4 linked regions of the Homo sapiens genome follow. Each later gene encodes a partner of the first gene's protein in a complex. Links are inferred from orthologs where the notes say so. Each region holds a gene or a part of one and is shown in the gene's direction. Other genes may lie near its edges.

The links.
Region 2: the proteins of YWHAG (region 1) and NLRP5 are in contact, whole or in part, in a cryo-EM structure (PDB 8XI3), measured with the Mus musculus proteins. The link is inferred for Homo sapiens from one-to-one orthologs. Residues at the interface, in NP_061359.2 of Mus musculus: Phe201, Tyr216, Thr220, Met223, Gln224, Arg227, Asp228, Thr231, Ser235; in NP_035990.1 of Mus musculus: Ser1030, Cys1031, Ser1055, Gln1058, Cys1059, Pro1060, Val1061, Glu1084, Phe1087, Val1088, Lys1089.
Region 3: the proteins of YWHAG (region 1) and TLE6 are in contact, whole or in part, in a cryo-EM structure (PDB 8XI3), measured with the Mus musculus proteins. The link is inferred for Homo sapiens from one-to-one orthologs. Residues at the interface, in NP_061359.2 of Mus musculus: Lys50, Arg57, Arg61, Lys125, Asp129, Arg132, Tyr133, Gly174, Leu177, Asn178, Val181, Glu185, Phe201, Asp202, Ile205, Ala206, Leu208, Asp209, Glu213, Tyr216, Lys217, Thr220, Leu221, Ile222, Met223, Gln224, Leu225, Arg227, Asp228, Asn229; in NP_444484.1 of Mus musculus: Phe137, Leu138, Ser139, Glu140, Ser141, Asp142, Leu144, Gln145, Leu295, Arg347, Asn430, Leu447, Gln470, Met472, Asn489, Asp510, Asn511, Thr512, Met530, Pro553, Arg555.
Region 4: the proteins of YWHAG (region 1) and NEDD4L are in contact, whole or in part, in a crystal structure (PDB 6ZC9), measured with the Homo sapiens proteins. Residues at the interface, in NP_036611.2 of Homo sapiens: Lys50, Arg57, Arg61, Lys125, Arg132, Tyr133, Gly174, Leu177, Asn178, Val181, Tyr184, Glu185, Leu225, Asn229, Leu232, Trp233; in NP_001138439.1 of Homo sapiens: Pro444, Arg445, Ser446, Leu447, Ser448, Ser449, Pro450.

Annotation. Positions count from the first base shown.
Region 1 is NC_000007.14:76,348,970-76,355,991, reverse strand, and holds part of YWHAG (14-3-3 protein gamma), read left to right. Parts: intron 1-7,022. UniProt on the Homo sapiens protein: Adapter protein implicated in the regulation of a large spectrum of both general and specialized signaling pathways. Binds to a large number of partners, usually by recognition of a phosphoserine or phosphothreonine motif.
Region 2 is NC_000019.10:56,024,771-56,031,792, forward strand, and holds part of NLRP5 (NACHT, LRR and PYD domains-containing protein 5), read left to right. Parts: intron 1-2,142; coding exon 2,143-3,739; intron 3,740-7,022. UniProt on the Homo sapiens protein: Component of the subcortical maternal complex (SCMC), a multiprotein complex that plays a key role in early embryonic development.
Region 3 is NC_000019.10:2,972,942-2,980,568, forward strand, and holds the start of TLE6 (transducin-like enhancer protein 6), read left to right. Parts: upstream 1-4,622; 5' UTR 4,623-4,669; exon of another isoform or gene 4,670-4,678; intron 4,679-5,256; 5' UTR 5,257-5,292; coding exon 5,293-5,343; intron 5,344-7,158; coding exon 7,159-7,241; exon of another isoform or gene 7,242-7,466; intron 7,467-7,627. UniProt on the Homo sapiens protein: Component of the subcortical maternal complex (SCMC), a multiprotein complex that plays a key role in early embryonic development.
Region 4 is NC_000018.10:58,327,219-58,334,240, forward strand, and holds part of NEDD4L (E3 ubiquitin-protein ligase NEDD4-like), read left to right. Parts: intron 1-1,776; coding exon 1,777-1,909; intron 1,910-3,519; coding exon 3,520-3,696; intron 3,697-6,599; coding exon 6,600-6,674; intron 6,675-7,022. UniProt on the Homo sapiens protein: E3 ubiquitin-protein ligase that mediates the polyubiquitination of lysine and cysteine residues on target proteins and is thereby implicated in the regulation of various signaling pathways including autophagy, innate immunity or DNA repair.

The DNA of each region.
Region 1 (7,022 bases):
ATTTTGAAAAGAAGGAAAGAGGAATGTTAGGTCTTTTAAGACAGATGTTTAGTCTTGTATTGAAGGAGAGTGAACACCTAGATGTATCCTACGTATTAGACAATACTGTCTTGTCCTTTGACTTTTACTAGTCTCTTGAGAAGTTAATATTTTAAATAGGCTACTGGTACTTGCCTTGGGGAGAAAAGGTTCAGGGTTACTAATTTTGTTGAAGTTACTGAGTTAAGCAGTTTAACTCAATGAGGGGTGGGAGGGCAAAGGTGGCAAAAGGCTATCATAATTTTTCTAAATATTCCTAGTGGGATCAATAGACTTTCAAATTCTTTCTATCTTAAATATTCCATTCCCCCTCCCCCCCAGGCTCTTCCAGGAGATCAATAGCTATTATCACTAATGGAGTAATGGTACCTCTGTAGACTCTTCAGAGGTGGAGTTCTGCCAACCATTATTCTAAGTCATGTGGCTTGAATTGTTCTCTTCTTGGGCGTGGAAAGAATACAGATCATACAGCTTGCCTTTCATGTGTTAGCCTTCCCAGTAACTGAAGCAGATATTAAGTGCTTTTTCTGATTATTTTGGAAATCTATGTGTTTTTTGAATTCTACTGAGATTCAACATGGCGCTAAATGTTCATCCTCATTGCAGTCCTGGATTAACTGCAAACCTAAGAGTAGGATTTCATCTCTTGTACTCAGGGAAGCCTTATTTATTAAGCCAATCTTTAAATTATTGAAAAGAGTGGAGAAAACGATGTGTTTTTATCGAGGTAAAAGTTGCGTAACATAACTGTCACATAGTCACATCAGATTTCAAGTGCAATTGAGTGGCATTGGGTACATTCCGTGTTGTGCAGCCATCACCTATGTTGAAGAAGAGAGAAAGTGGTTATTTTTAAAAAGTGATGCCGGTCTGGACTACAGCTGGCTGGAATTCAGCACCTATTCAGGAATGTGTCGATAATGGAGTGCCCACAACAGCTCACAGCCAGCGATAATTGTCTATCCCTTTGTCTTCATTTCCAAGCGTCTGAACTGAAAAAAGGGAATTAGCTTTAGCTACGTTTGTACTGTATTTCCACTTAAAAAGTTATGGAACTTGAACACTGTATAATGTTCACCCAAATAAATAAGAACAATTTACTTGAAATCTGAGCAAATCGTTAACTCTTTGGGGATTATGGAAATTTTGCTGGTGTTCTAGTGACTCGTTTTCAGCCCTAAGGCTGGCTTTATTATCAGTGATTTGCCGCCTGTGTGGTAGTGGTTTCCTAATGAGTAGGATGCAGGGTTGAGACTGGGGAGCTCCTGCAGCATGAGGCTCTTAACTGATGGGACGCCAGCACAAGACATTCAGTACATTGTGGCTGTCAGGAGCTGGATGGGAAAAGTAGTTACTTTTCCCTTCTTTGCCCATTCCCAATATCAGCAGTCCTAACCTTATTTTATTTTATTGTATTTTATTTTAATTTTTTTGAGACGGAGTCTTGCTCTGTCACCCAGGCTGGAGTGCAGTGGGCAGTGGTGTGGTATCTCGGCTCACCGCAACCTCTGCCTCCCAGGTTCAAGTGATTCTCCTGCCTCAGCCTCCCAAGTAGCTGGGATTACAGGCACCCACCACCACGCCCAGTGAATTTTTGTAGTTTTGATAGAGACAGGGTTTCACCATGTTGGCCAGGCTGAGCTCGAACTCCTGACTTCAGGTGATCTGCCCACCTCAGCCTCCCAAAGTGCTGGGATTACAGGCGTGAGCCACCGTGCCCAGCCTCAAGGACCACTTTCTATGCTCGGTAGTCAAAGGGAAATACTACTTTTAAATGATATAAAACGTTATCTTCTCTTTGCCTTCTTTTGAAAGTTACTTAGTGTTTTACCAGATATTCCAGTCTATAATTATGTGTGCGTTTGATTGCTTGTTTTTTGTTTTTTTTTTTTTTGAGGCAAGGTCTCACTCTGTCACCCAGGCTGGAGCATGGCTCACTGCAGCCTCCACCTCACAGGCTAAAGCGACCCTCCAGCCCCAGCCACCCAAGTAGTTGGGACTACAGGAGCATGCTACCACACCTGGCTATTTTTTTGTACCGTTTTTTGTAGGAACGGGGTGTTGCCATGTTGTCCAGGCTGGTCTTGAGCTCCTGGACTCAAGCAGTCTGCCCATCTTGGCCTCCCAAAGTACTGGGATTACAGGTGTGAGCCACCACACCCAGCCCGGTCTATAATTATAATGCAGCTAAATGTTGCCTTTCTACAAAGGCTACCAATACCAGCTGCCTTATGGCCTCTCCTCTCAGAATTATTTTTCTGTATCTTCCCCAAATTCCATTTTAGGTGTCAGCTATCATTTTGATTAACTACCAAAACATATTATTTTACTTAAAATTGTCATTTGTAGAAATCTTGAAAATTTTGATATTTTGCTAAATGAATTTATGAATTTGAGTGGTAGAAAATTAGTTACACGAAAACTGATTTAAAAAATTCCCTGGGTCAGGCACGGTGGCTCACGCCTGTAATCCCAGCACTTTGGGAGGCTGAGGCAGGTGGACCATGAGGTCAGGAGTTGGAGACCAGCCTGACCAACATGGTGAAACTTGTCTCTACTAAAAATACAAAAAATTAGCTGGGCATGGTGGCATGCACCTGTAATCCTAGCTACTTGGGAGGCTGAGGCCGGAGAATTACTTGAACCTGGGAGGTGGAGGTTGCAGGGAGTTGAGATTGCACCACTGCACTCCAGCCTGGGTGACAGAGCAAGACTCCATCTTGAAAAAAAGAAAAAAAATTCCCAAAAGAAAGCTTTAATTTTAAGGTAAATAGTTATAAATAATTGGTTTGCTACCATGATTTTGTAGAAAAAATAAAAATTGTAAATCTTAAAAGACCATGTGCATGAGTCTTTTCTTTCTGTTTAAAGAACTGGTGAAGTCTTAGTTAAATTGCTCCCAGCATTTCACTTGTTAAGTGTGTGTCCTACAGAAATAGACTTTTCTTTACCTGAGTTGAATACTACTAATATGTGCTGCATGGCATTAAGTTTTGGTTATGGGCCGGATGTAGTGGCTCACGCCTGTAATCCCAGCACTTTGGGAGGTCGAGGTGGGTTGATCACTTGAGGTCAGGAGTTCAAGACCAGCCTGCTCAACATGGTGAAATCCCATCTGTACTAAAAATAACAAAAATTAGCTGGGCATGGTGGCGCATGCCTGTAATCCCAGCTACTAGAGAGGCTGAGGTAGGAGAATCACTTGAACCCAAGAGGCAGAGGTTGCAGTGAGCTGAGGTCATACCACTGCACTCCAGCCTGGGTGACAGTGTGAGACTCTGTCTCTAAAAAAAAAAAAAAGTTTTGGTTGTGAATAGGAAAGAGAGTGTTCTTACATAATTTAGATTTTTAACATAACATTAAAACAATAAAATTATTCCAAATAAACTCTTGGGCTTCTTAACCTTTGGAAGGGTACCTGTCTTTGGAGAGAGAAAGCCCATTTTGGTGAGTGGGACCCAGGTACCCAGCTTTCCTCTGAGCAGGGGTGTCCGAGTTGGGAGTATGACAGTGACAGCAGTGGCCAGCTGAACACGTAATGACAGTAGCTGAAGAGGAGTCACTGATCCACCCCCAACCTGCCGCAAGCTGAGTATGAAGAGCAGCTGCCGTGGGCAGGGAAGTGAGGAATGGCTAAGGGAGCGAGGGGAAGGCTTTAAAAAGCCAGGTTTCTTTTGAAGCCGTAGAGATGATTTACATTTCTTGAGCTGTCTGAAAGGAATTACTCATATGACTCTAAAGCTACCATATTTAAAAAACCCAGATCTGGGAAACAAAATGCCTATGGTGCTAGTTCTTTAAGAATGTAGAAATCAGCTTGAATTTTTGACTGTTTCTATACAGACTGCTTTTGTAGCAATCTAACATGAAGCAGTGAGCATGTCTTTGCAGTGGAGGTGCAGCATAGTGAGTAGCCATGCGGATAACCCCATACTCATTGGCAGTATGTTATAATGTGAGGGCCCGCCTGGCCTGGGTAGGCTAAAGAGCAGTGGTCCCCAACCTTTTTGGCACCAGGGACCCGTTTCATGGAAGACAGTTTTTCCATGGACTGGGTGGGGTGAGGGGTAAGGGGATGGTTTGGGGATGAATCAAGCACATTGCATTTATTGTGCACTTTATTATTGCTACATTGTAGTATGTAATGTAATAATTATACAACTCACCGTAATGTAGGATCAGTGGGAGCCCTGAGCTTGTTCTACAATTAGATGGTCCCGTCTGGGGGTGATGGGAGACAGTGACAGATCATCAGGCATTAGATTCTCATAAGGACCATGCAGCCTACATCCCTTTTGTGTGCAGTTCACAGTAGAGTTGGCACTCCTTTGAGAATCTAATGCCACCGCTGATCTGACAGGAGGCGGAGCTCAGGTGGTAATTCGAGCAGTGGGGAGTGACAGACTTCCTGCTCTGCAGCCAGGTTCGTGACAGGCCATGGACCCGTTGGGGACCCCTACTATAGAGAATAGATGTTATTATTTTCAAACCTTCACATTGGGTCTTGTATCTGTGTAATAGAGGTTAAGACTGGAAGTTATTTTTCCTACTAGGTTGAAAAGACCCTACTCAGAAAGGCGAGAAGAATGAACAGGAGAGGAGAATACGAACAACAGAAAAGGGCATTCCAAGGCGAGGAAAGCTAGTGGGGACAAGGGAGTAGGGAAGGAATATTCTAGAATATCTTGGATCTTGGAATGCCATGCCTATTTAAGGGAGTCTGTAGTCTTTGGAAGGCTGTGAACAATGGGATTGACTACTGAAGACAAAAATGTTGGTGGCCTTTCAGGATGCTAGAAATTTCGGGGGGAAATGACAAGAAGAATCACCATAATGATTCACATGCAGGGATATTTCCATCGTGTCTTTTTCTACAGTTTATATTCTTTTGCACCTTGCTTTTTTCACTTGACATCATTTCAATGATATTCTGTCATTATTTTCAGTAGCTGAATAATCCTGTGGATATATCATAATTTAATTATTTTTTTGCTTAGTATTCAGGCTGTTTCCAAATTTACATTGTAAATAATATTGATGTGTGGGTATAGATGGTCCCTGATTTCAGATGGTTTAACTTAACGATTTTTCTTTTCTCTTTTCTTTTTTTTGAGACAGTCTTGCTCTATTGCTCAGGGTGGAGTGCAGTGGCGCGATCTCAGCTTACTACCACCTCTGCCTCCTGAGTTCCAGCGATTCTCCTGCCTCAGCTTCCCAAGTAGCTGGGATTACAGGCATGTACCACCACGCCCGGCTAATTTTTGTATTTTTAGTAGAAATGGGGTTTCCCCATGTTGGCCAGGCTGGTCTCCAACTCCTGGCCTCAGGTGATGTGCCCGCCTTGGCCTCTGGAAGTGCTGGGGTTACAGGCATGAGCCACTGCGCCTGACCTTAACCTGACAATTTTTCAACTTTATGATGGTGCAAAAGCAGTAGGCATTCAGTAAGCTCCTCCACTTAGGATGGTCATGTCCCCATAAATGAGTTGTACATGGAGGAGTATCTGGTATCTTTCAGGCACAATTCGTACGTTAAGACAGACCCAAGAGGGGAATTGCTGGAAAACCAGCTAAGAATAATGTTTAAGGTCCTCACTAGTACAGGACCTTGAAAGTTTTGAAAGATGTGTTTGAATAGGTATTATGTATACATGTTTCAGAATTCAAAAGGCACCCATTGCCCTTTGTCCTCTAGGAAGGAAAATGAGGTTGAAGCAGGGGTAGGCTCGATGCCAGCTTATTTGAGGCAAGGGCCCATCTCCCTTATGCTTCTTTGGAGTGATTGCCTTTTTTTTCCCTTTGACTAATGGAAACTTTCAAACATACAAAATAAAGACAAATAGTACAGTAACCCCCGTACACCCAGCTTCACCATTTTTCAGCACATCGGTCTTTTATCTGTATTTTCTTACTCTTCTGGCCTCCTCGGGGATTATTTACCAATTTGGAAGATGGCTTTTTGGAGACAGTCTTGCTCTGTTGCCCAGGCTGGGGTACAGTGGTGCAATCTCAACTCACTGCAACCTCCCCCTCCTGGATTCAAGCAATTCTCCTACCTCAGCCTCCCCAGTAGCTGGGATTACAGGTGCCCACCACCACGCCTGGCTAATTTTTGCATTTTTAATAGAGACCAGGTTTCACCATGTTAGCCAGGCTGATCTCGAACTCCTGACCTCAAGTGATCCACCTGCAGGCATGTTTTTGTTTTTCATCGTTTGCTGGCCATGTAGAAAAAGACTTCAGATGTTTGGAACTTGATCTATTTATTGAGGAAGGGCAAACAATATGGCACAACTTCAAACAAAGCTATCATTAACAGATTAAATTTTTACAACTTACATAGAATGTATTTCTACCAACATTATTTGGAGCTGTGGCATGTAGATTCTCAAAAACACTTGCTGAGTGAATTACAACTACCTGTTACTTTCATTTTTTGGTACCCTGTTGCATTTTGATCTTGGTTTTCTCTTTTCATCATCTGGCTGTGTGTGTGTGTGTGTGTGTGTCTGTGTGTGTGTGTGTGTGTGTGTGTATTAATAAATGATGACCAAAACGCGTCTGGACCGCAATGGAAAACTTAACGGTACTTTTTGGTATTTTTTTTTTTTTTTTTGAGACAGAGTCTGCTCTGTCGCCCAGGCTGGAGTGCAGTGGCGCGATCTCAGCTCACTGCAAGCTCTGCCTCCCAGATTCACGCCATTCTGCCTCAGCCTCCCGAGTAGCTGGGACTACAGGCGCCCACCACCACGCCCGGCTAACTTTTTGTATTTTTAGTAGAGATGAGGTTTCACCGTGTTAGCCAGGATGGTCTCAATCTTCTGACCTCGTGATCCACCTACCTCGGCCTCCCAAAGTGCTGGGATTACAGGCATGAGCCACCACACCCGGCCGGGAAGACGAGATTTTTTAAATTACACACTTAGATGAAATATTGTAATATAGTTTGACGTTTACTGTCACCTTGGGAAGCATTTTTATGTA
Region 2 (7,022 bases), on another chromosome or scaffold:
CTTCATCAGGTGGGGAAACTGAACAGCAGCTTGTATCAAATCATACAGATGCTCTACAGCAGGGGTCCCCAACCCCCAGGCCATGGACTTGTAGGGTGGCCTCTTAGGAACCAGGCAGTATAGCAGGAGGGAGCAAAGCTTCATCTGTATTTACAGCTGCTCCCCATGACTCATGTTACCACCTGAGCTCTGCCTCCTGTCAGATCGGATGTGGCATTTGGTTCTTCCAGGAGCATGAGCCCTATTGTGAACTGCACATGTGAGGGATCTGGGTTGCGTGCTTATGAGAATCTAATGCCTGATGATCTGTCAGTGTCTCCATCACCCCCAGATGGGACCATCTAGTTGTAGGAAAACAAGCTCAGGCTCCCACTGATCCTACATTATGGTGAGTTGTATGATTATTTCATTATATATTACAATGTAATCATAATAAAGTGCACAATAAACATAATGTGCTTGAGTCATCTCAAAACCACCCCCTTCCACCCCGGTGTGTGGAAAAATTGTCTTCCACAAAACCGGTCCCTGGTGCCAAAAAGGTTGGGGATCACTGCTCTACCGTAGAGCTTGGGTTCCAGGCGGGATCTGTTTGACCTCAAGGAACGTGCTCCGTTCTCTCTCTCTCTCTCTCTGTCTCTCTGTTTTTTTTTGAGATGGAGTCTCGCTCTGTCGCCCAGTCTGGAGTGCAGTGGCACAATCTTGGCTCGCTGCAAGCTCCACCTTCTGCGTTCATGACTTTCTCCTGCCTCAGCCTCCCGAGTAGCTGGCATTACAGGCGCCCGCCAACATGTCTGGCTAACTTTTTTTTTCGTATTTTTAGTAGAGACGGGGTTTCACTGTGTTAGCCAGGATGGTCTCAATCTCCTGACCTTGTGATCCACATGCCTCAGCCTCCCAAAGTGCTGGGATTACAGGGGTGAGCCAGCACATCCGGCCATTCCCCTCTTTATGTACAGCAGGATTCCCCCATTGCGTGGGGGAAACCAAGGGATGGAACAGGAGGGGCACACCTGTCCTACAGGTGTAGAACTTGGGGCCATGGTACATGCATCCGTGGCTCCCTCAAGTTCCCCTCCCCCTCCCCAAGGCCACTTATGTTGGCATACATCATTCATTTAACAAATACTTGATTTCCCACAGAGTGCCAGGCACTGTCATAAATACTGAAGGTCCAAGAGTGAGTAAGAAAGTCCATGTTTAGATTCTACGGGGGGAGACCATCAGCAAATACAGCGTAACCCATCAGGTCCCCAGTGCAAAAAGGGACATCGGGTTGAACAAGGGAAGCAGAGCTATTTTGTAGATTGTTAAGAAGCTTTTGAGGCCTTTAAAGTAGGGAACGAAGAGTGAGCATGTTCTCAGCACCTGGCTAGGAAGAAACAAGACCCATGTCTGGAGGCTGACTCAGGCCCCACTGATGCTCGGTCCAGGGTTTCTGTGAGGTATATTTTTACTAAAATTCAGATTGGCTTCAGCTGGGCGCAGTGGTTCATGCCTGTAATCCCAGCACTTTGGGAGGCCGAGGTGGGTACATCACTAGGTCAGGAGATTGAGACCATCCTGGCGAACACGGTGAAACCCCGTCTCTACTAAAAATACAGAAAATTAGCTGGGCGTGGTGGCAGGCACCTGTAGTCCCAGCTACTCAGGAGGTTGAGGCAGGAGAATGGGGTGAACCCAGGAAGCGGACGTTGCAGTGAGCTGAGATTGCGCCACTGCACTCCAGCCTGGGTGACAGAGCAAGACTCCATCTCAAAAAAAAAAAAAAAAAAAAAATAGACTGGCTTCAAATTTTGTTTCCCGATTTATTTTTATTTTTATTTTGAGATAGAGTCTCGCTCTGTGACCAGGCTGGAGTGCAGTGGTGTAATCTCAGCTCACTGCAACTTCCATCTCCCGGGTTCAAGCAATTCTCCTGCCTCAGCCTCCTGAGTAGCTGGGGACTACAGGTGCCAACTACCATGACTAGCTAATTTTTGTATTTATTAGAGACGGGGCTTTGCCATTGACCAGGCTGGTCTCAAACTCCTGACCTCAGGTGATATGCCCATCTTGACCTCCCACAGTGCTGGGATGACAGGTGCGAGCCACTGTGCCTGGTCTGTTTCCTGATTTTCATTCTACCCTCTCTGACTCCAGGACATGGAGGTGACACATGGGACTACAAGAGTCACGTGATGACCAAATTCGCTGAGGAGGAGGATGTACGTCGTAGTTTTGAAAACACTGCTGCTGACTGGCCGGAAATGCAAACGTTGGCTGGTGCTTTTGATTCAGACCGGTGGGGCTTCCGGCCTCGCACGGTGGTTCTGCACGGAAAGTCAGGAATTGGGAAATCGGCTCTAGCCAGAAGGATCGTGCTGTGCTGGGCGCAAGGTGGACTCTACCAGGGAATGTTCTCCTACGTCTTCTTCCTCCCCGTTAGAGAGATGCAGCGGAAGAAGGAGAGCAGTGTCACAGAGTTCATCTCCAGGGAGTGGCCAGACTCCCAGGCTCCGGTGACGGAGATCATGTCCCGACCAGAAAGGCTGTTGTTCATCATTGACGGTTTCGATGACCTGGGCTCTGTCCTCAACAATGACACAAAGCTCTGCAAAGACTGGGCTGAGAAGCAGCCTCCGTTCACCCTCATACGCAGTCTGCTGAGGAAGGTCCTGCTCCCTGAGTCCTTCCTGATCGTCACCGTCAGAGACGTGGGCACAGAGAAGCTCAAGTCAGAGGTCGTGTCTCCCCGTTACCTGTTAGTTAGAGGAATCTCCGGGGAACAAAGAATCCACTTGCTCCTTGAGCGCGGGATTGGTGAGCATCAGAAGACACAAGGGTTGCGTGCGATCATGAACAACCGTGAGCTGCTCGACCAGTGCCAGGTGCCCGCCGTGGGCTCTCTCATCTGCGTGGCCCTGCAGCTGCAGGACGTGGTGGGGGAGAGCGTCGCCCCCTTCAACCAAACGCTCACAGGCCTGCACGCCGCTTTTGTGTTTCATCAGCTCACCCCTCGAGGCGTGGTCCGGCGCTGTCTCAATCTGGAGGAAAGAGTTGTCCTGAAGCGCTTCTGCCGTATGGCTGTGGAGGGAGTGTGGAATAGGAAGTCAGTGTTTGACGGTGACGACCTCATGGTTCAAGGACTCGGGGAGTCTGAGCTCCGTGCTCTGTTTCACATGAACATCCTTCTCCCAGACAGCCACTGTGAGGAGTACTACACCTTCTTCCACCTCAGTCTCCAGGACTTCTGTGCCGCCTTGTACTACGTGTTAGAGGGCCTGGAAATCGAGCCAGCTCTCTGCCCTCTGTACGTTGAGAAGACAAAGAGGTCCATGGAGCTTAAACAGGCAGGCTTCCATATCCACTCGCTTTGGATGAAGCGTTTCTTGTTTGGCCTCGTGAGCGAAGACGTAAGGAGGCCACTGGAGGTCCTGCTGGGCTGTCCCGTTCCCCTGGGGGTGAAGCAGAAGCTTCTGCACTGGGTCTCTCTGTTGGGTCAGCAGCCTAATGCCACCACCCCAGGAGACACCCTGGACGCCTTCCACTGTCTTTTCGAGACTCAAGACAAAGAGTTTGTTCGCTTGGCATTAAACAGCTTCCAAGAAGTGTGGCTTCCGATTAACCAGAACCTGGACTTGATAGCATCTTCCTTCTGCCTCCAGCACTGTCCGTATTTGCGGAAAATTCGGGTGGATGTCAAAGGGATCTTCCCAAGAGATGAGTCCGCTGAGGCATGTCCTGTGGTCCCTCTATGGTGAGTACCCCAGGCAGTTTTATCCTATGCCGTGTGCTGAGCTCTGTGTCTCTACTGCTGGGACTTGACATGACTTCCAGGAACTTCAAGGTCCCAGAGAATTCTTTCAGGATGAATGGCCCAGATGACGTCCAGCTGGCTAAAATGCCAGGACCGGAATCTGGCTCATTGTCCACACCTGGGAAAGGTCTTTCACAATACAGGGCCCCGCCTAAGACTAAAGGAAAGGCTCTGGGGTTGAAACCCAGGAATATGTGGTTTATTTTATTATTTTAAGTCAGAGTCTCACTCTGTTGCCAGGCTGGAGTGTAGTGGCACGATCTCGGCTCACTGCAAACTCCACCTCCCAGGCTCAAGAGATTCTCCTGCCTCAGGCTGCCGAGGAGCTGGGACTACAGGCATGCACCACCATGCCCAGCTAGTTTTTGTAATTTTAGTAGAGATGGGATTTCGCCACGTTGGCCAGGCTGGTCTCGAACTCCTGACCTCAGGTGATCCACCCGCCTCAGCCTCCCAAAGTGCTGGGATTACAGGCATCAGCAAGCCCCTCCCATGAATGTGACCGCTCAGGTTTGTGGACTGCTTATTTGGTATGGTGTCCAGGGCCGTGCTGTCCAGTAGAGGGTTCTGTGATGGAAATATTCCATGTGCCTTGTCCAGTAGGACAGCCACCAGCCTCATAAGCCTGTTGAGCATCTGAAACATGGTGAGTGAGACTGTGGAGGTGAAACTCATCTCACTCCATTTCAACTCATTTGTATTTTTTTCTTTTTTTGAGACAGAGTCTCACTGTGTCACCAAGGCTGGAGTACAGCAGCATGATCTTTGCTCACTGCAATCTCTGCCTCCCGGGTTCAAGCGATTCTCCTGACTCAGCCTCTCAAGTAGCTGGGATTATAGGCAGTGCCACCATACCTGGCTAATTTTTGTATTTTTAGTAGAGACAGGGTTTCACCATGTTGGCCAGGCTGATCTCGAACTCCTGACCTCAGGTGAGCCACCTGCCTTGGCCTCCCAAAGTGCTGGGATTATAGGCATAAGCTGCTGTGCCCGGCCTCATTTGTATTTAAATAGTCACACATAGCTGATGCTTGCTGAATAGTGCAGGTCTAGAAAACACACTTTGCTGGACTGTCTCAGTGTCATCCTCCTATGACCCAGAACACAGCAGTGACGAATGTGGACAGGCTGGGTGGACGAGGATTACTTGAGGCCAGGTTTTTGAGACCAGCCTGGGCAACAAAGTAAGACCCTGTCTGTGGACAGGCTGGGTGCAGTGGATCATGCTTGTAATCCCAGCACTTTGGGAGGCTGAGGTGGGTGGATCACGAGGTCAGGAGTTCGAGACCAGCCTGGCCAACATAGTGAAACCCCATCTCTACTAAAAATACAAAAATTAGCCAGGCATGGTGGCGCACACCTGTAATCCCAGCTACTCAGGACGTTGAGGCAGGAGAATTGCCTGAACCCAGGAGGCAGAGGTTGCAGTGAGCCGAGATCACGCCACTGCACTCCAGCCTGGGCAACAGAGTGAGACTCCATCTCAAAAAATAAAAAAAGCCTCAAATTATCACATGGGGCTGGGCGCGGTGGCTCATGCCTGTAATCCTAGCACTTTGGGAGGCTGAGGCAGGTGGATCACACTAGGTCAGGAGTTCGAGACCAGCCTGGCCAACATAGTGAAACCCCATCTCTGCTAAAAATACAAAAATTAGTGGGGCGTGGTGGTGGGTGCCTTTAATCCCAGCTACTCAGGAGGCTGAGGCAGGAGAATTGCTGGAACCCCGCGGGCGGAGGTTGCAGTGAGCCAAGATGGCACCACTGTGCTCCAACCTGGGTGACAGAGTGAGACTCTATCTCAAAAAAAAAAAATTCTCACATGGAAGAGGTCTGGCACAGCACCTGCTGTGTGCTAAGGCCTTGATAACAGGGCAGCTACCTTTGGTTGGAAAACAAGTACAAATGCTTGCTTTTTAGGAGGTGAGCTCATGTCAGTGCAGAAAGAAAGAACAGCTTGCCCGTTACTTTGTTCTTTCCACAGCCAAGAGGAGTCACAGCCTGGGCAATTTTCCTGTAGATTGGCTGAAAACGTGCGCAGCCACAGGCTAAGCACTGAGATGGGAAATTTACATATCATAAAAAGTCAAAGCTACTTGTGTTCACAGCTACCCTGTGCTATACTTACATTCATTCGCTTTCTTCTTCTTTTTTTTTTTTTTTTTTGAGACGGAGTCTTGCTCGGTCACCCAGGCTGGAGTGCAGTGGTGCGATCTCAGCTCACTGCAACCTCCACCTCCTGGGTTCAAGCGATTCTCCTGCTTCGGCCTCCCTAGTAGCTGGACTACAGTTGCCCACCACCACACCCGGCTAACTTTTGTATTTTTAGTAGAGATGGGGTTTCACCATATTGGCCAGGCTGGTCTTGAACTCCTGACCTTGTGATCCTCCCATCTTGGCCTCCCAAAGTGCCGGGATGACAGGCGTGAGCGACTGCGCCCGGCCTCTATTTTTCTTTTATTCTTGAGGGCAAACCCATGAGGTTAGCTCCCTGTTCACAAACGTGGGAAGGTATACACTCAGACACGTGGGAAGGTATAAACTCAGACAGGAGATGATTGCCAGTGGACGGGAGACTAATTGCTCCAATTTTTAGGTGTACGATACAATATTAACTACAGGCACGACATTGAACAATGGATCTCTAGAACTTTTTCATCTCACATCACTGACCCTTCATGCCCATGAAACGATAACTCCATCTCCCCTGCTCCCCAGGCCCCCGGCAGCCTCCACTCTACTTTCTGCTATTTTAGACATTTCAAAGTAGAATCATGAGCCCAGTGTATTGGTGGCTCACGCCTGTCATCCCAGCACTTTGGGAGGCCAAGGTGGGTGGATCACTTGAGGTCAGGAGTTTGAGACCAGCCTGGCCAACATGGTGAAACCCCATCTCTACTAAAAAAATACAAAAATTAGCCAGGCATGGTGGTGGGCACCTGTAATCTCAGCTACTTGGGAGGCTGAGGCAGGAAAATCACTCGAATTTGGGAGGCAGAGGTTGCAGTGAGCCAAGATCATGCCACTGCACTCCAGCCTGGGAGATAGAGACTCCGTCTCCAAAAAAAAAAAAAAAAAAATGTAGACTCATGCAGCATTTTGCAGTATTTGTCCTTTTGTGACTGGTATAGCTCACCTAACATAATATCCTCCAGGTTCATCCACACTGTCAAAAACGGTAGAATGTCCTCCTCTAAGGACGAGTAATATTCCATTAACATATGTA
Region 3 (7,627 bases), on another chromosome or scaffold:
AAAAAAAAAAAAAAAAGGCTCAGGCCTGTAATCTCAACACTTTGGGAGAACGAGGTGGGGGTGGATCCCCTGAAGTCAGGAGTTCGAGACCAGCCTGGCCAACATGATGAAACCCTGTCTCTACTAAAAATACAAAAATTAGCCGAGTGTGGTGGCACGTGCCTGTAATACCAGCCACTCAGGAGGCTGAGGCAGAAGAATCGCTTGAACCCGGGAGGTGGAGGTTGCAGTGAGCTGAGGTTGCACCATTGCACTCCTGCCTGAGCAACAGAGTGAGACCCCTTCTCAAAAAAAAAAAAGAGTAGAAATGGAATGACTACTGAAAATGTGCTTCCGATTTCTACATGGACCCTGGAGGAATTTCTCTTTCCTAGGAGCCTCCAATCAGTGCTGTCCACTGGGACTTTCTGTGATGACAGAATGTTCTAGATCTTCGCTGTCCAGTACGGTGACCCCCAGACGCCAGTGACGACTGAGCGCCTGACATGCGGGCAGGGTGCCTGAGGAATGGAATTTTAAATTGTATTTCATTTTAATTAATTTTAACTTAAATAGCCACATGTGCTTACTGGATACCCTGTGAGACAACCCTGTGAGTCTTGGATAAAGCAACGTGCCCAGCTGAAAGTCTACAATCAGAGGGAGGGGAAAAAGCAAAGCCCATATTAGGAGGCTGGACCATAAATAAAACACACTTTAATTATGCAGCTGGGTGCAGTGGCTCACGCCTGTAATCCCAGCACTTTAGGAGGCCGAGATGAGTGGATCACTTGAGGTCAGGAGTTTGAGACCATCCTGGCCAACATGGTGAAACTCCATCTCTACTAAAAATACAACATTAGCTGGAGGTGGTGTGGTGGCGGGCGCCTGTCATCCAAGCTACTCAGGAGGCTGAGGTAGAAGAATCGCTTGAACCCAGGAGGCAAAGGTTGCAGTGAGCCAAGATCGTGCCACTGCACTCCAGCCTGGGCGACAGAGCAAGACTCTGTCACAAAAAAATAATAATAATAGCCAGGCGTGGTGGCTCACACCTGTAATCCCAGCACTTTGGGAGACCAAGGCAGGTGGATCACAAGATCAGGAGTTTGAGACCGATCCGGCCAATATGGTGAAACTCCATCTCTATTAAAAATACAAAAATTAGGCGGGTGTGGTGGCGGGCGCCTGTAGTCCCAGCTACTTGGGAGGCTGAGGCAGGAGAATCGCTTGAACCTGGGAGGTGGAGGATGCAGTGAGACAAGATCGCGCCACTGCACTCCAGCCTGAGGGACAGAGAGAGACTCTGTCTCAAAAAAATAAGTAATAAAAATTAAAAAATAATAATTATGGGACAGTGGAGGGTTCGTGGGTGGGAAGCTTTTCTGCAGGTCTTTCATGACGGCCCCTCCCTTTGTTCTCCATGGACCAGCTGCAAAACCCAAGTCACGTGTGCACATCACCACCTCTGGGGGCTACTTGTCCCAGCATTGAAACCCTCAGTTCCCCGCAGCGAGAGAGCACAGAACAGAAAACAGGGAAGAGTTTCTCTGGCTGGGTTTGGATCTGAAGTCAGCAGACCTATCGGGCATTTGTGTCACATGGGGAGGTCAGAGGATGGGAGGCGTCTCTGTAGGAGAATCCTGACAGCATTCTCTGCATTTAGAACATGCAGGGCTTAGAGCTATCGTGGGAGGCTCCCGCCACAGGAGCCACTGAGATTACAAGATTAGCTGCAATCCAAACCACATTCGGAAAAAAATAAAATAAGAAAGGGAGATACAGGCCCGGTGGCGGCACAGTGGCTCATGCCTGTAATCCATAGTACTTTGGGAGGTGGAGGTGGGAGGATCACTTGGGGTCAGGAGTTCAAGACCAGCCGGGGCAATGTACTGAGACTCCCCTCCCCCTCGCCCTGTGTTTAAAAAAAAAAAGAGGAAATAAAGGGAAATATAGGGAAGGGAAGGGAGGGTTGGGAGGTCTCTTCAATGAGATCCTTCCTTCCTTCCTTCCTTCCCTCCCTCCCTCCCTTCTTTTTTTTTTTTTGAGATGGAGTTTCACTCTTGTTGCCCAGGCTAGAGTGCAATGGCACGATCCTGGCTGACTGCAACCTCCACCTCCCGGGTTCAAGCGATTCTCCTGCATCAGCCTCCCAAGTAGCTGGGATTACAGGCGTCTGCCACCACACTCAGCTGACCTTTGTATTTTTAGTAGAGATGGGGTTTTGCCATGTTGGCCAGGCTGGTCATGAACTCTTTTCTTCTTTTGAGGCAGAGTACTCTGTCGCCCAGGGTGGAGTGCAATGGCGACATCTTGGCTCATTGCAACCTCTGCCTCCCAGGTTCAAGTAGCTGGGATTACAGATGTGCATCACCGTGCCCGGCTGATTTTTGTATTTTTAGTAGAGGTAGGGTTTCAGCATGTTGGCCAGGCTGGTCTGGAACTCCTGACCTCAAGTGATCTCCTGCTTCGGCCTCTCAAAGTGCTGGAATTACAGGCGTGAGCCACCACGCCTGGCCTGATGTGGTGATTTTTTTTTTTTTTTTCTGAGACAGAGTCTTGCTGTGTCACCCTGGCTGAAGTGCAGTGGCACAATCTCGACTCACTGCAACCTCCGCCTCCCAGGTTCAAGTGATTCTTCTGCCTAAGCCTCCAGAGTAGCTGGGACTACAGGTGCCTATCACCATGCCTGGCTAATTTTTGTATTTTAGTAGAGCTGGGGTTTTCTTTTTTTTTTTTTTTTTTTGAGACAGAGTCTTGTTCTGTCGCCCAGTCTGGAGTGCAGTGGCGCAATCTTGGCTCACTGCAAGCTCCGCCTCCCGGGTTCACGCCATTCTCCCGCCTCAGCCTCCTCAGTAGCTGGGATTACAGGCACCCACCGCCACGCCCGGCTAATTTTTTTGTATTTTTTATTAGAGATGGGGTTTCACCGTGTTAGCCAGGATGGTCTCGATCTCCTGACCTCGTGATCCACCCGCCTCGGCCTCCCAAAGTTCTGGGATTACAGGTGTGACCCGGCCAAGCTGGGGTTTCACCATGTTGGCCAGGCTGGTCTCGAACCCCTGACCTCAGATGATCCACCCACCTCTGCCTCCCAAAGTGCTGGGATTACAGGCGTGCACCACAGCACCTGGCCCAACGTGGTGATTTCTAAGTAGGGAGCTGAGGGAGTAAGGAGCCAGCCGGTGGCTGTCTGAGAGAGACTGTCCCTGGCAGAGTGAACTGCTAATGCCAGTACCAGGTCCTGGGCCAAACAGAAAGAAACGGGCTCTCACTCCAGAACTGCAGCTTGACCACTATATATATAATATATATACTTTATATATATTATAGCTATATATTTTTTTGAGATGGAGTCTTGCTCTGTTGCTCAGACTGGAGTGCAGTGGCACGATCATAGCTCACTCCAGACTCAACCTCCTGGGCTTACGCCATCCTCCTGCCTCAGCCTCCCCAGTAGCTGAGACTACAGGTGCATGACCACCACACTTGGCTAATTTTTAAATTTTTTGTAGAGACGCGGTGTCACTGTGTTGCCCAGGCTGGTCTCCAACTCCTGGCCTCAAGCAATCCTCCCACCTCAGCCTTCCAAAATGCTGGGATCACAGGTGTGAGCCATGGTGACTTGGCTTCATATTTTGAATAGGCCAAAACAAAACTCCGAAATCCCCTTACTCCTATCCCCACGACCCCACACAGCAGGTTTCTCTCGCTCTGCAGCAACCCACTTACCTCTCGGAAATCATCCCAGGCCTGTTCGGAGTGCACGCAGCCCCGTTAGCCTCCCTGGCTGCTCCTGTAACCAGCCCAGCTCTGCCTGAGAGGTTCCGCTATTCCCTCCGTCTGGAATACCCACCACTCTCTCCCACCCCGCGCTTGCATCCGGCAATACTGTATCAGCCTCAGGGCCTCTGCTGTCCCGCTTTCTGCTCTCAGAGCCTTTGTCACTGGGCTGGAAGAGCAGTTGGGAAAATTCGGTGATAAATGCATAGCCCGGGGCTGGGACCATCAAGGGGACCCAGTAAGTTGGCTCCAGAAAGAGGACTTGAAGCTTCGTTTGCATTGCACGTTATTTAATATTGAGGAAAATGTAATTAGCCCGTATCTAAGAATTGGGGTGACAGCGCTAAAGATTGAACCCACCCACCTCCCACTCCTCACCTCCAGCCATAAGCCACTTCCGGACAAGGCTAAAAATGCGTAAAACAATGCAACTACTCGCCACCTATCCCTGCCCAAGTTCCAGCCTCTGAGCCTCAAGCCCCACGCCCTCCTAAATATCCCCGCCCCCGCTGGGACCCCAAATTGCCTATAGCTCTGCAAGTCCGCCCTTCCCGGCAGCGGGACCGAAAGGGTAAAGCAGAGGCTCCCGGCTCGCTGAGTGACAGCATGGCCGGCGGCCGGGGAGAGCCGACCAATCAGGGAGGGCGTACGCGACCCACGTGCGTAAACGGCCTCGCTATTGGCCGGCGCCGCCAGAGGCCTGCCCCCCCCGGAGCCCGAACCCACGTGCAGCTACTGCGCCTTCATTGATCTGCTTCGCGGTCCAGGTGGCGGCTGGGTGGGGCCTGGGCGGGACGGGGCGGGGACAAGGCGGGACGAGGCGGGGCCCGATGGGTCAAATGGCCCCCGGTGGGGGAAGGAGGAGTTTCCTCTTGGCCTGAACTTGGCTGACCTCCGCAGCTTCCGCCCGGTGAGGGACGTGAGTTGCCAGGCGTGTTCTAGGGGGCTGGGGGGACTCCAGGATTCCCGGCCGGGGAAGGGGCTGCAGGGGCGTGGAGGGGCAGGACTGAGGCAAGGAAGAAGCTGGGTGCTGCAGCAGGGATGGAGGTGGAGAGAGGTCGTTTCTTCTGTCTGATGAATTCCGCCTAATGCACCTGGCTAACTCCTAGTCATCCTTCAAAACCCCTTTCTAGTGATCTCCCTGCGCTTTAGGAAATTGTCTCAAAACTAAGGTTGAGCTTTGGCGACCTTCCCTGGGCTCCCCCGTCCCTGACTGCCCCCAGCAGGGAGTGTATGTGCACTATCCACCCCAGCCTCCTAGGGTGAGGCCTGGGAGGCAAGGCTCAGTTCTTTCTGGGTCCCCGCCCCCATGAATCTGGGCAGCTGGAGGCATTGATAAGTGAGGACAGGACCTAGGGAACGCATGGGAGAACCGCAGGATTGGGTCCCTGGAGACTTACCAAACTGGGAGGTGCGGGTGGGGTAACGGGTGCCTTGCTTCCCTGGCACTGCCTTATTTTCTGTCCCTCAAGACCTGCCGTCTCCTTGTTGTTTTAGACTCTGGCTAAAGTCTTGGAGGCTACTGCCTTGAAGATGACCTCTAGGGACCAGCCCAGACCCAAGGGCCCCCCGAAAAGCACTTCGGTGAGGAGGGCATGTGGTGGGATCAGCCCTCAAGGGAAACCCGGGCCCAATGTGGTTCTGCCCCTTTTCCACCTGTGACCTGGGCTGGCCCCGCCCAGGCCTCGCAGCTGAAGACAATACTGGTCGCTGCTACACTCAAGACAGGTGCCAAGGAGCCGTGTTTTTTAAAAAAAATTAAGTGTAGGCTGGACACTGTGGCTCACAACTGTAATCTCAACATTTTTGGAGGCCGAGGCAGGAGGACCACTTGAGCCCAGGAGTTTGAAACCAGCCTGGACAACGTAGTGAGACCCTGTCTCTGTAAAAAATAAAACTAGAAGAATCAGCTGGGCCTAGTGACGTGGGCCTGTAGTTGCAGCTACTTGGGAGGCTGAGGCAGAGGGTTGGCTTGAGCCCAAGGAGTTTGAGGCTGCAGTGAACTATGATGGTGCCACTGCACTCCATCCTTGGTGACAGTGAGATCCCATCTAAAAAAAAATGTAGCATCTAATCACATATGTGATAAAAACACAGGAACACATCATGTATTTGGTTGATGTTTTACAAGCAATCCCCGCTCCCTGCACTTTGCGTCCCAGAGATGACCATTTGTAAATTTAGGCTCTCAGGGCTGAGCAGACGTTTTTTTTTGTAAAGGAGTCAGATGAGGGATATTTTGTTTTGAGACTTTATGATTTTATTATGTTTGAGACGGAGTCTCACACTCACCTCGGCTGGAATGCAATGGCGCAATCTCAGCTCACTGCAACCTCTGCCTCCCGGGTTCAAGTGATTCTCCTGCCTCGCCTCCCGAGTAGCTGGGACTACAAGCACCTGCCACCATGACCACCAAATTTTTCTTGTATTTTTAGTAGAGACTGGGTTTCACCATGTTGGCCAGGCTGGTCTCGAGCTCCTGACCTCGTGATCTGCCTGCCTCAGCCTCCCAAAGTGCTGGGGTTATAGGTGTGAGCCACCACACTTGGCCAAGAGACTTTATTTTATTGAGTCTTGCTCTTGTTGCCCAGGCTGGAGTGCAGTGGCGCGATCTCGGCTCACTGCAACCTCCACCTCCCAGGTTCAAGTGATTCTCCTGCCTCAGCCTCCCGAGTAGCTGGGATTACAGGTGCGCGCCACCACGCCCGGCTAATTTTTGTATTTTCAGTAGAGACGGGGTTTTGCTGAGTTGCCCAGGGTTGTCTCAAACTCCTGACCTCAGGTGTTCTGCTCACCTCGGCCTCCCAAAGTGCTGGGATTACAGGCATGAGCCACCTTGCCCGGACTTTTATTTTTAAAAATATTTTGTGCTTCTATTTTCATCACAAGAATGTGGTGAACATTTTAGACTTTAGGCCAAAGTGCAAAATGGAAGATGCTCTTTACTGAAATAAGAGAGGCCGGGCGCGGTGGTTCATGCCTGTCATTCCAGCACTTTAGGAGGCCGAGGCGGGTAGATCATGAGGTCAGGAGGTTGAGACCAGCCTGGCCAAGATGGTGAAACCCCATCTCTACTAAAAATACAAAAATAAGCCAGGTGTGTTGCCGGGGGCGGGCGGGGGAGGGGGGCGCGGGCGCATGTAATCCCAGCTACTCGGGAGGCTGAGGCAGGAGAATCGCTTGAACCCGGGAGGCAGAGTTTGCAGTGAGCTGAGATTGTGCCACTGCACTCCAGCCTGGGCGACAGAGCAAGACTCGGTTTCCAAAAAAAAAAAAAAAAGCAAAAACCACAATTACTTTTGCACCAACCTAATGCCTATGCCATGTTGAGGTGGAGACCGGGGGTCTTGGGTGTTGGAGCATTGTAAGTTTTATGTAACCTTGCTTTGACCTTTCCAGCCTTGTCCTGGGATCTCGAACTCTGAGAGCTCTCCGACGCTGAATTATCAGGGCATTCTAAATCGGCTCAAGCAGTTCCCCAGGTGAGAGCAATTCCAGGGGCCGGAGGTCTCACGCTGGGAAGGAGCCCCACCTGGCCTCTCTCCCGGGGGTCCTAGTGAGTGGTCTAGAGGCTGCTGGCCCAAGAGCCAGGCTCAGGAACAGGAAGCCATGCAGATACCCAGCATGGAGAACCCGGCAATACCCATCCCAGCTTTTGATTAAACAAAATTACCAACAAATATTAAAATTTTGATTTTCCTGTTCGACATGGATTTGTTGGCATTCAATTTTATTGTTGAAAAATACTGCAACGGCTGGGTATGGTGGCTCGCACCTGTAATCCCAGCACTTTGGGAGGCGGAGGCGGGCGGATTGCTTGAGGTCAGGAGATCAAGATCAGCCTGGCCAACATGGTGAAACCGCGTCT
Region 4 (7,022 bases), on another chromosome or scaffold:
TCCTGAGTAGCTGGGATTACAGGCGCCCGCCGCCATGCCCAGCTAATGTTTGTATTTTTGTGAAGATGGGGTTTCACTGGCTTGGTCAAGCTGGTTTCAAACTCCTGACCTCAGGTGATCCGCCCACCTCAGCCTCCCAAAGTGCTAGGATTACAGGTATGACCCACCACGCCCGGCTGAAAAATGCAGTTCTTAATCCAAGTTCGGGCTCACATGTAGTTTTGGGAGAAGGCAGAGGCATAACTGCCCCATCAAGGAGGCAGCAATGCCAAAGGGAGAGGCTGAGCCAGGAAGGACACAGCAGAACTTGGCAGAACCTGAGGAGCGCCTCCTTCCAATGGGCATAACTTCTAGAAGGCAAGAGGAAAGTTAGTTAAGGAAAAAGAGTTTCCACCACAACCTCTGCTAGCAGGCCCTTTATTGGGATACAGTATAAGTTCATTTCAGAATGTGTGAGAAAACTTTAAAATTTGTGTTTTAGAAAGAGTCTATAATGAGTGTTCTTGATAAGTACTATATTTCAGTTAGTCTGAAATGACGATTTCAACTTTTGAGATACTGACTTGTGACATAATTTTTGTTAATGGGATATGTTATCTTATTGAAAGTATCTGTGAGAGTTTTCCCTGAAAAAATTTTTGGCATTTAAACTTGTACACTAAAAGCCTCTGACTAGTATTTCCCCCAAAGTATGATTGCCTATAATTTACTGCAAAAAAAAAAGTTTTCTTTTTTCTTTTTTTTTTTGTTTTGTTTTGTTTTGAGATGGAGTCTCACTCTGCTGCCCTGGCTAGAGTACAGTGACATGATCTCTCAGCTCACTGCAACCTCTGCCTCCTGGGCTCAAGTGATTCTCCTGCCTCAGCCTCCTGAGTAGCTGGGACTACAGGCACGCATCACCACACTCGGCTAATTTTTGTGTTTTTAGTAGAGGCGGGGTTTTGCCATGTTGGCCAGGTACGTCTTGAGCTCCTGACCTCAAGTGATCCGCCCGCCTTGGCCTCCCAAAGTGCTGGGATTACAGGCATGAGCCACCATGCCCAGCCCAAAAAAGTCTTCCAAATTGAATCAAAACTTTTAGATCCTGAATTGAGAACATCACATGACAAAAAATAGGGTATGATGTTTTGGTGTTCTTCAGACCCCGGCTGACTTGAGAGGTTATCTCCTGATGTTATTAGGATTTTTAAAGTAGGGTAAAGGAGGTAAATGCAGTGTCACGATTTTGAGATTCTGTTAAAATGAGCTAGAAAGCAGCTGAAAAAAATTCATGTTGGATCAGGTGTACTTTCCTCCAGATGACAGCTTTGAATTTGTCCCTTTTGTAGTCTTTGGTCAAATTGCTGGTGACCAGAAGTAGCTGCCTTGTCATTGCTGGACTTCTAGAAGGATTGGGACTGCCCAGCTGCTGTGTGAACTTGCCTGTCACCTCTGCTTCCAGAGGTCTGACTTGTCACTGTGGCAAATGGGCAGAGGACTTTGATTTCTGTTTTTTATTAAACACTGAGGTATATTTTGAAATGTATGCCTGAAAGATGCTCAAAATGGTGTGACTAATGCATTTTAAAACTGCATTTATTTGATTGAAATGAACCTTAACCTATACTTTAGCCGTAATATGGTGGGAGAATTCTCACATTGGATGACCAGCTAGTTGTCAGTGTTTGACGCTGACACTTTAGTGGCCATCTGGCCCTCCGTGAGCATTGAACTGTCATGAAGGGCCCGATCTCAACCACTTCTCTTCTTCTCTTTCCCCCTTTCCTGCATGCTCAGGGACGTGTCCTCGGAGTCGGACAATAACATCAGACAGATCAACCAGGAGGCAGCACACCGGCGCTTCCGCTCCCGCAGGCACATCAGCGAAGACTTGGAGCCCGAGCCCTCGGAGGGCGGGGATGTCCCCGAGGTACGATGTCCCCAGAATGGTGCAAAGCCCGGCAGCTCCTTCTTCCCATGTTCTCCAGCTTGATTTTATATCATAATTTCTTCTGTCAGTAAACATTGTTGAGAATGTAAAGATTACAGTGACGCAGGGAATTAATTACCATCTGAATATTAATTTGAAAGTGCCTATAAAAGCCGTATTTGACAAGTATAGGTGGCTCTATATTATAGAAATGGGAATAACATTATTTTTATTTTTATTTTTTTTGAAGACAGTGTCTTGCTCTGTCGCCCAGGCTAGAGTGCAGTGGTGCAGTCTTGGCTCACTGCAACCTCCGCCTCCTGGGTTCGAGCAATTCTCCTGCCTCAGCCTCCTGAGTAGCTGGGATTACAGGCACGCATCACCACACCCGGCCAGTTTTTGTATTTTTAGTAGAAATGGGGTTTCACCATGTTGGCTAGGATGGTCTCAATCTCCTGACCTCGAGATCCGCCTGCTGCCTCAGCCTCCTAAAGTGCTGGGGTTATAGGTGCATGCCATCACAATGGCTAATTTTTTTTTTTTTTTTTTTTCCTAGTAGAGACGGGTTTCACCATGTTGGCCAGGCTGGTCTTGAACTCTTGACCTCATGATCCACCTGCCTTGGCCTCCCAAAGTGCTTAGATTACAGGCGTGAGCCACTGTGTCCAGCCCACATTATTTTTCAGTATGAAAATCTTAAGATATTTTTAGTTTGTAATTTATTTTTCACAGGGGTCTAACCATGTCTCATTAAATGACAGCTTGTTTTTATCATAGTTGAGCTGTTGAATGAGCCCTGTAACTTGTTTGGGTATCATATGCATATTTTTATTGAGTCGCTTTGACACTTGGAAGAGATTTATTACCATGAAAATATAAATTTAGGTGAACAGAAATGTGTAATTTTCCCTTTAAATAGTTATGGTATGTTACTTAAAACGTTATGAATTAAACAACAAATTAGCCATAATCTTCCATGCTATCTTACCAGCTCTGTTTATGTACTAAAAATCCATTCTTCTTAGACATTGTGTTAGGAAGATCATTTAGAATGCGGCGATTCAACTTGGAAAAGCAAAAGTAATGATTCCATAACACATTCACTCTAAGTTATTTTATACCATTGTTTAATTACAGCGTATAGCTTCTATGCTGCTCCCACGGTGAATCCTCAGTGGTTAAAAGTAAAAGAAAATCCATGACAATTGTTTATAAACTCCAGAGAAGTGTGTGTGTGTGTTTGTTTTTTTGCCCACACATATAGTAACAAGTGCTGGAAATCAGTCACTGTTCAGAGAGGCATTGTTATAAAGTGGTTAAGAGCACAGCCTCTGTCTGGAACCAGGCCTCTTTGATTCACATCATGGCCCTACCACTTGCTAGATGTTACCTTGGGCAGGTTATTTTCTGTGCCTCAGTTTCCTCATCTGTTAATTGGGGGAGTTATCTTCCTCGTGATTATTGTGAAGGTTGTGTGCCTCATGAGAGGCACTTAGTAGGTGTTAATTATAGTTATCACCGGGGCTATTGTTGTTACATGGTTTCATTGGGGAGCTGGGTGGATCCCTACTTCTTTCTAGTGTTTACCCCAGTGTCTCCTTCTCTGAAAGCCTTGGGAGACCATTTCAGAGGAAGTGAATATCGCTGGAGACTCTCTCGGTCTGGCTCTGCCCCCACCACCGGCCTCCCCAGGATCTCGGACCAGCCCTCAGGAGCTGTCAGAGGAACTAAGCAGAAGGCTTCAGATCACTCCAGACTCCAATGGGGAACAGTTCAGCTCTTTGATTGTAAGTAGTGGCCTTGTTTGAAAGAAAAGCTGAGCAATGTTTTATTGTTTTTTGTTGCTTAAGGAGAATCTCTTACGTAAATAGTGACCAAGGGTCTTCCAGCTCCCAGCTAACTCTGACATTTTCCAAAGTTCCTCCTTCCCTAGGAGAAGCAGGACTGTACTAAAATTAGCCCAAGCAGGTGAGAATCTTTCTTGATTTGGAAGGCAGCTTTGCTCACCCTTATACCACTAACACTTTCTTGGTTTATAAAGAACTCAAAGAAGTAAAACTCCATGATGTCTGTAATTATTAGCTTTAACCTTGTAGAATTCCTTTCCCAGCCAAAAGGCTCATGAAAATAGTACCTTTATCACAAAGGTAGTATTTCACAGTAACAATTAAAAGCCATCAGGCCTAATCAGTCCTCTTAAGTCATATTCTGCAGGATTTATCATTCTCATTTCGCTGATAAGGGCACAATGCTTAAGTGGCTCATCCAAGACAAGGTTTGAGTGGGAGATAGAAGACGTCTCCTAAGTCCCAGAGTATGAACCCTTGAGAAATGTTGTGAAATTGTGACACTGTCATCAAGGTAGCATTTTAACTTGGGCTCTCAACCATCAGAAACATACTTTCTAGAAGCTTCAGATGGGCCCAATGCCTGAGCCCAATGGAATCAGTCACAAAGACTTCCATGTTTGACAATACAAAACTGTGCAGAAATAACCCATAGAAAATCCCTGCTTGTGCATAGAATTAAGAGCAAATGAAGTCTCAGTGTTTCTCAAGAAACTGAACTTAAAAATGTACAATAGTAAATGATGATAGTCACTCCACTGAAAATGGCATCCTAAAAAAAAATAGTCATTACTATGACCATAACAAACATAAATGATAGCACTGCATACAATGTAAAAGCAAGTAAGTACTCACAAAATTGTTACTTTTTGGTTATGGTGTTTTTATTTTAAAAGACAGTATACGCCTCTATTACATGAGTTGCATTTATCATTCAGTTAATGTGATTTCACTTTGAAATTCTGTGACTTTTTCAAAAAGAGATGTGTCGCCAAGATGAAAATGTAGTACTAAATGGACAGGATAAAAGAAATTGCATATATATGGGATATTTGAACTGATAAAACTGTTGTTATAGAAACAACATAAACAATGAAGCCTTGTATTTAAAACCTATAAAAGCAAGGAGGTACCACAGAATCCATGGCAGTAACACACCTTTAGTAAACCAAGTAAACACTGTAATTTTTTTCAGCAATAATCATAAGTTAGCAATTCTAATTATTTAAATGAGGAGCTCCTGAATTTAATTATTCTAGATCTGTGAAATATCATTAAGACCCAAATACAATGTTGTATTATTTCACATCGTGTTCACTGTTAAATGAGAGTCAAATCGGATATTTGCTCATTGGGATTACCCTGTATTCAAGGGGAAGAACATGAGCTTTGGCTGGGCACGGTGGCTAATGCTTATAATCCCAGCACTTTGAGAGGCTGAAGCAGGCGGATCACCTGAGGTCAGGAGTTCAAGACCAGCCTGGCCAACATGGTGAAACCCCGTCTCTACTAAAAATGCAAAACTTAGCCGGGTGTGGTGGGGTGCACCTGTAGTTCCAGTTACTCAGGAGGCCAAGGCCCAAAAATTTCTTGAACCCAGGAGGCAGAGGTTGCAGTGAGCCACGATTGCGCCACTGCACTCCAGCCTGAGCAACAGAGTGACACTTTTATTAAAGACTGATTCTTTCACAGTAACCAATGTGGGAAGATGTGAATTGTCCCCCATCCCTACCACAGAGTCTTCTTGTACCATTTACTTATCACAAAATATTAAAAATGAGTAAATACTAGAAACTGATACTATGGATGAACTTGCCGATAAGGAGACTCTGGCTTCTGTGTGTGACCTGCTGCTAATCTTCATTCATATCAATTAGGCTTCATTTAACCACATAGACTAATACAAACAAGTTAGAGGAATATTAAGACACTACACAGTAGATCTTTTTTTTTAGCTTGATCTCACTATTTTTAATCATTCCTGTCTTTACTACTTGAAGTCCACTTAGAAGCTAAAATTGGCTGAGCATGGAGGCTCACACCTGTAATCCCAGTACTTTGGGAGGCCGAGGTGGGTGAATCATCTGAGGTCAGGAGGTCGAGACCAGCCTGACCAATATGGTGAAACCCCATCTCTACTAAAAATACAAAAAATTAGCCAAGTGTGGTGGGGGGGGCTTGTAGTCCCAGCTACTCAGGAGGCTGAGACAGGAGAATCACTGGAACCTGGGAGGCAGAGGTTGCAGTGAACTGAGATCATGCCACTGCACTCCAGCCTGAGCAATAGAACAAGACTCTATATTTAAAAAAAAAAAAAAAAAGCAGCTAAAATTATAAATACCAGATCTTTCAGAAGTAGGCCAAGATGATGTCTGAGCTCCTCTGAATATAGGATGCAACTGACTCTTTTTCAATTGTAGTAATCAATAAATGTTGGGTAGCCACATATCACTATTTCTTCCGTCTATTCACATCACATTAAAATTTACCCTGAGGGTGCATCTTAGAGCAAACTACAAGACTGCTAGCTTCTTTCTGTTTGTAAAGCAGCATTAGAGTGTTGCAGAGTCCTGTTGAGTCTCCTTTCTGAAAGTTTTGGTCTCCTCTTACTTTTGCCACTAATTCTAAGGACCAATCAAAATTCCAGTCTGCTTAACTGAAAATTAAAGTGAAAGATAACTTTTTCAAGGATGACTGTCCTTGCTCTGAAAAGATGTTTCATTTAATTACCTTCTAATATCGAAGAGCGGTGAATATGGTTGAGTGATATGTTTGTTAAACCAATGAAAGTTGCTTTTAAGAATATATTTCTTGATGCTTCCTGTCTTTTCCTCTCCTTCCAGCAAAGAGAACCCTCCTCAAGGTTGAGGTCATGCAGTGTCACCGACGCAGTTGCAGAACAGGGCCATCTACCACCGGTAACCCATGCTAATTTCCAGTCATCAGTTGACTTTTTGGGCTTTCATTTACAATCATCTGGGCTGCTGCAAAAAGAGTTTTTCCTGTGTAAATTTATTTACAATATAAATGAGATGTTTTTAAATTTCCTGGCCAATTGCCCTAGGAAAGTGGATTTCCAATACAGAGAATTGTTACTGCCACCCATCTCTAAAATGCTGGAACCTCCATTGCTTTAGTTTTTCACCCAAATTTATACCAATTTTGATTTGCTCACTTAAACCTCTTGGTACATTAGTTAGTAATTCCTTTTACCTTATTGAGTTACTATAGTTATGCTCCAGTGATCTGTACTTTGAAAACACATT